Linked DNA regions of Homo sapiens: region 2 is linked to region 1. A link means that fine-mapping ties the variant in region 1 to the expression of a gene that starts in the linked region. Tissue or cell type: substantia nigra. Region 1 holds a variant in brackets; the other region holds the start of a gene. All regions are shown on one strand. Distances are from middle to middle.

Region 1 (2,754 bases):
CATTGGACTCTGAAGGATGGGCAGGCTCTCTCCAGGCAGGGAAAGCAGGAAGGAGCTCCAGACACAGGGGACTGCATGTGTGAACAGCAAGAAAGAGTGGTAGTATAGGGACAACAGGCTCTCGCTGTGGCTGGAGCAAAGACTCCGGCACTCCAGGTCATGGGAGCTGCACCTGCCGAGGTGGAAGCTGCATCCCCAGGCCCTGTCCATCTCCCAGGGCGCTTCCAGCCTGACCCTGGGGGTCAAGCTCTGTGCCTGGGTGCTTCCCTGGAGAAGGGGTTCAGATGTCAGGGCTCCTGCGTGACCCCAGGCCTCTCTCCTCCTCTCAGTCTTCCCTCAGTGCAGCTGAGAACCCAGCAGCCACCTCCCTAGCCCAGACCCATGCCAAAGCCCAAGAGATCTGAGGAGCTGAATGTAAGAAATGAGGAGAGACCAGCTCAAGGGGGTCATGGGTAGAGGGAGAGATGAGAAAAACAGACCCAAAACAGAGCTGGGGAACTGCCGACAAGCTTCCCAAAGCCCCAGAAACGCCCCAGGGCAGCAGGAGACAAATGCTTTCAGGCCTGAAAATCTCCACGGCCTCAGACTTCCCAGGTGCCTCTTCTGCCCTCAGTCTTCCTTCCTGCTCAGGTGAAAACATCAGCCTCAGTAAAACGCTTCAAGTTCCCAAGCAAGGATTCCCTGGGACAGTGAACTCCTCCAAACCTAAAGTGCAATCATCTACCACATTTTCTTTTAAACCTGTTGCCACCAGAATGGGAGCTTCTTGAGGACAGGGTCTGTGTCTTTTCTGCTTTTAGCCGCAAACCTAGCACAGGGCATGGCATCCATGGCATGGACTAGGCACTTAGTAAATGTGAATGAATGAATGAGTGGATTGATGGATGACAGGTAAATAATCAAAGACAGAATCCCCTATAACCAATTTCTGATTTATCTGACACTGAAAACAAGGCTCACCCGAAGTCCAATTGGAAAACATACCAGATCTATCTGAGGGGTTACTAAAGTGTTTTTATCCCAGAGGGGGATGGGCATGAGGGAGGCACAGGTCTGAGCCTGCCCGGAAACCCTGGTGATAGGGAAGGGGAAGAGTGGGGCAGAGCCAATGTGGCAATCCCCCTGTGACAC[G/A]TCTAACGCCACCTCCCAGCCTGCCACTCTGACTAACCAGCACGTCGGCAGCTGAGAAATGTGTAAACAAGATGGAAAACCGCAACAGTCCTCCCCTGCCCGTGGCCCCCAGAGCACCCTCCAGCTTCCTCGCATAATCCACGTGCAACCAGAAACTCTCGAAGGGTAGCAGATGAAAGGAACACTTGAGGAAGAGGGTGAGAGACATGATGGCCCCTGTCCAGGCGTGCGCACCTGTCCAGGGGTGGCAGTCGCGTCTCCTGTCACAAAATGTCCTGCACATCAGTCTGGCTGGGCGTCGCCCGCTGGTGCGGTTGAGCCAACCAATGCTTTCAGCATATCCTGCTGTCTCAGTTTCTTCCTCTAAATCTGTATGCATTCATTCATTCATTCATTCAGCATGTGTTCCCTGAGCATCTACTATGTGCTAGGTACTGGCAAGATACCATGGAAGATTCAGAGAATATGTAAAATCTAGGCCTTCAGTTTTGTGCACTCCATAGATGGAACAGGAGCAGGGGAGACTGCTTTCCCACACTCCAGACAAAGCCTGACACTCACTCACTCACTGATGTCCACAAGAAGGGGCTAAACATAGAGCCAAGGTCAGCCCCCTCACCTTCATCCCATCTCCACCCTGACATCACTCACGATCACATCTCCAGTCTCCAGAGAGGAGGGTCTTGCCAGGCTGCTGGGAGAACCTGTCCGGACACGTAGGAGTCACTGGTGGTCTTAAAGAGAATAATAGCTACAGCGGCAGTATCACATCTCTATCCAAATGCAACAAGGGCCCCATGTTGTGCTTTGAGAAGCACTTTCACATCCAAAATCTCCCTTCAGTCTAATACAACTCTCTGAGACATTGTAATCCTCATTCTACAGATGAAGAAATTGAGGCTCAGCCGGGTGTGGTGGCTCATGCCTGTAATCCCAGCACTTTGGGAGGCCTAGGTGGGCGGATCACCTGAGGTCAGAAGTTCAAGACCAGCCTGGCCAACATGGTGAAACCCCATCTCTACTAAAGATATAAACATTAGCCGAGCGCAGTAGCTCACGCCTGTAATCCCAGCGACTCGGGAAGCTGAGGCATGAGAATCGCTTGAACCCAGGAGGCAGAGGTTGCAGTAAGCCGAGATCACACCACTGCACTCCAGCCTGGGCAATAGAGTGAGACTCGGTCTCAAAAAAAAAGAAAGAAAGAAAGAAATTGAGGCTCAAAGAGGTTCATGACTTGAAAAGGGTCATTCAGCCAAGGGCAAAGGGAAAACCAGTAGCTATAATTAACTTAGACTTTCAAGAAGACTAAACTAAAGTTTCATACCCAATGCTGCTCAGGGAAAAAAAAACCCAAATTACCAGGAGACCATTAACGATAGAAAATTGATTTAAAGAGAGAATATTATAAGTGGATCAGGCCTAGGACTAATCCTATCTGTGGGAGGAGACAAGAGAAATTTCAGGCTGAGAGTGAGCTCTTCAGAATCACAGACCCTAAGGAAAAACCTTAGAGGTCTTCTCGGCGAGTGGGTTCCCCAAGCGTACTTTGACCTCAGAGCCTTTAGCTCCACTGAAATCAAATGCAGAATCCTCGTATGGGACACAGAGAGAAAAACAGAGCTG
Region 2 (2,606 bases), 940 kb after region 1:
ACAAAAACACACATGTAGGATACACCCCTCACCTTTACTAAGGAGCTCCTGAAGGGCTGCCCTGGCCAGGGAGCCTCGAATCTTCAGTCTCTCAGAGACCACAGCTGGGGTTATAAGTTTATAGTTGGGAACTTCCTTACAGAGTTTATCATAGGTAGCTTTGTCAAACAAGACTAAGTTATTGAGCTTGTCCCGAACTTTGCCTTTGGACCACTTCTGCTCACCAAAACAAAACAGAAACAAGTTAGTATTTCTGGCAGAAGCACCCTTTCCCTCTCGAGTAATCTGCGTCAGAGAAATCTGTTCCACCGTTATCAAGGATAAATTACACATTACTAAAACAAAAACAAAAAAAAAACACCGACACGTTTTTGGCCTTCAAACAGGGGCCGAGCCCCACTAGATCAGTTAAAAATAACACAGCAGGCACAGCGGCAGACACTTCGCACAACAGACCCATTTTCATGATCCTAATGGGAAAAAGAACGAGTGGTGACGGGAAGATAAACTCTCACATTTTGACTCTAGAAATCTACACCTGAAAAACCACTTACTATACAAGTTACCTATTACTAGAGGATTACGAGAGAGTTACCCCTAGTCTCTTTCAGAGAGGTCTTATTTCTACCTTCTTTTTGGCCTTGCCCCCGGATTTGTTCACTGGGTCTTTGTCTTTCTTGGCCGACTTTCCAGCGTCCTTCTTCTTCTTGTCGTCCTTAGGCGGCTGTAGGAGGGCAGCGGGAATGCAACCAGGTCCTCAAATAGCGCCAAAGTCCCCTAATACTGCGCCCTCAGCCCCCGCAAACTCCACCACCAGAGCACATGGGCCAAGCAATAACCGCGCCCGCCCTGCAACCGAGGCCGGCAGGCCAAGGAGCGCTCCCGCCGAAGGCTCTCCCCACTGAGTCCTCAAACCCAAGAACGCCGGCGACTTCACACCCCTGAAGCTTACCATTGCGAAGCTCGGAGAATAGCAGCAGACACCGCAGCCTCGTCAAGATGTCGGACAAAAAGGAAGCGCTGCTCAGAAACGGGCCCAAAAACCACCGTCCGCTGTGAGTACTTCCGGGGCAAAAGGCGGAGCCAGGCAGAAGAAGTCCCACGGCGAAGCGCTCGCCCTCTAGCCTGAGGCGGAAGACAGGAAGTGGATTCTAGTTCCCAAGCCGCACCGCCTAAATACTGCCGGAGTCTGCGCTAGTTGTGACGCATACTATAGCGCTGTTTTCCTGCACTGATAAACGAAAAGCAATCCACCAGGTCTCGGCAGCTAACTTTCCGGCACTACTTATGCCCGAGCGTGTCGCTCCCAGTGCGCAAGTGCAGCAGGTGGCTGCACGGGGGGCGCGGGAGGAGGAGGAGGAGGAGGAGGAGGCTGGGGTGGGGCCGGCGGCAAGTGCTGTGATGCGGTTCCGGGGAGGGGCCGTCGGGTAGAGGCTGAATACCAGTTTCCGAGCGGCAAGGCAGCGATGGCGATTTTTAGTGTGTATGTGGTGAACAAAGCTGGCGGCTTGATTTACCAGTTGGACAGCTACGCGCCACGGGCTGAGGCTGAGAAAACTTTCAGTTATCCGCTGGATCTGCTGCTCAAGCTACACGATGAGCGTGTGTTGGTTGCTTTCGGCCAGCGGGACGGCATCCGAGGTGGGCTAGGCTCGGGCCCGTGGCGGGTGCGGGGGTGGGAGGGCCCCAGTGCTGTAGAAGTGGGCTGGTTGTAGGTGCGGGGTTGGGGGAAAAGGGGTTGTGTCGGGTCCCTTGTCCCCTCGGCGGAATCCCCGGGCTGCACCTTCGCTGACCGTTAGCTTCACCTCTGCAGTGGGTCATGCAGTGCTGGCCATCAATGGCATGGACGTGAATGGCAGGTACACGGCCGACGGGAAAGAGGTGCTGGAGTATCTGGGTAACCCTGCTAATTACCCGGTGTCCATTCGATTTGGCCGGCCCCGCCTCACTTCTAATGAGAAGCTTATGCTGGCCTCCATGTTCCACTCGTAAGTCCCCCGTCTCCTGAACGGCAGCGCTTGTAATTTGTCTACCTTTTCTTAAATCGTCGTTCTGGTGTTATGAAAAACGCAACCGATCCAGATCTAGATTTTAGGTAATAACGGCAGTGGTGTCATCTTTTTTTGCTGGGTGGGGAGGGGCCGCGGAGTTACCCAGGCTGGAGCGCAGTGGCGGGATCTCGGCTCACTGCAGCCTCTGCCTCCCAGGTTCAAGCGATTCTCCTGCCTCAGCCTCCCGAGTAGCTGGGATTACAGGCGCGTGCCACCACGACCAGCTAATTTTTGTATTTTTAGTAGAGAGGGGTTTTGCCATGTTGGCCAGGCTGGTCTCAAACTCCTGACCTCAGGTGATCCACCTGCCTCGGCTTCCCAAAGTGCTGGGATTACAGGAGTGAGCCACCGCGCCCGGCCGAGGTGTCATCTTACTTAAAGTCAACTTCTCTTCTCTGAGCCTTAGTTTCTTCATATTTAAAGAAAGCCAGTTTAACTAAATGACCTTTAAACTTTTTCTGCTCTCAATTGTGATATCAGATGTGCCGGCCTTTGCTTAAACACAAGCTTAGTAAGCGTGGCACATATTCCTAGAGTATTCATTTTACCCAAAGT

The links. PIP is the estimated chance that this variant, and not a neighbour inherited with it, causes the effect.
Region 2: it holds the start of TRAPPC4, and the variant in region 1 is fine-mapped to the expression of TRAPPC4 in substantia nigra (GTEx, PIP 0.99).

Annotation. Positions count from the first base shown.
Region 1 is chr11:118,080,245-118,082,998 of GRCh38, forward strand. All of the region lies in intron 1 of SMIM35 (small integral membrane protein 35), which reads right to left. The region is part of intron 1 of TMPRSS4 (transmembrane serine protease 4); the gene reads left to right. Among named protein-coding and RNA genes, the nearest start is that of TMPRSS4, 4.5 kb to the left of the region's middle. The variant G/A (reference allele first, on the strand shown) is at 1,132.
Region 2 is chr11:119,017,330-119,019,935 of GRCh38, forward strand. It overlaps TRAPPC4 (trafficking protein particle complex subunit 4), which reads left to right and starts at 1,437. Exons shown (of 5, transcript NM_016146.6): 1 at 1,437-1,641; 2 at 1,814-1,988. The coding sequence starts at 1,467. RPS25 (ribosomal protein S25) reads right to left here and starts at 1,014. Exons shown (of 5, transcript NM_001028.3): 1 at 953-1,014; 2 at 629-724; 3 at 33-216. The coding sequence starts at 955. RefSeq lists enhancers at 736-805, 826-1,055, 1,310-2,008 and a silencer at 1,296-1,415.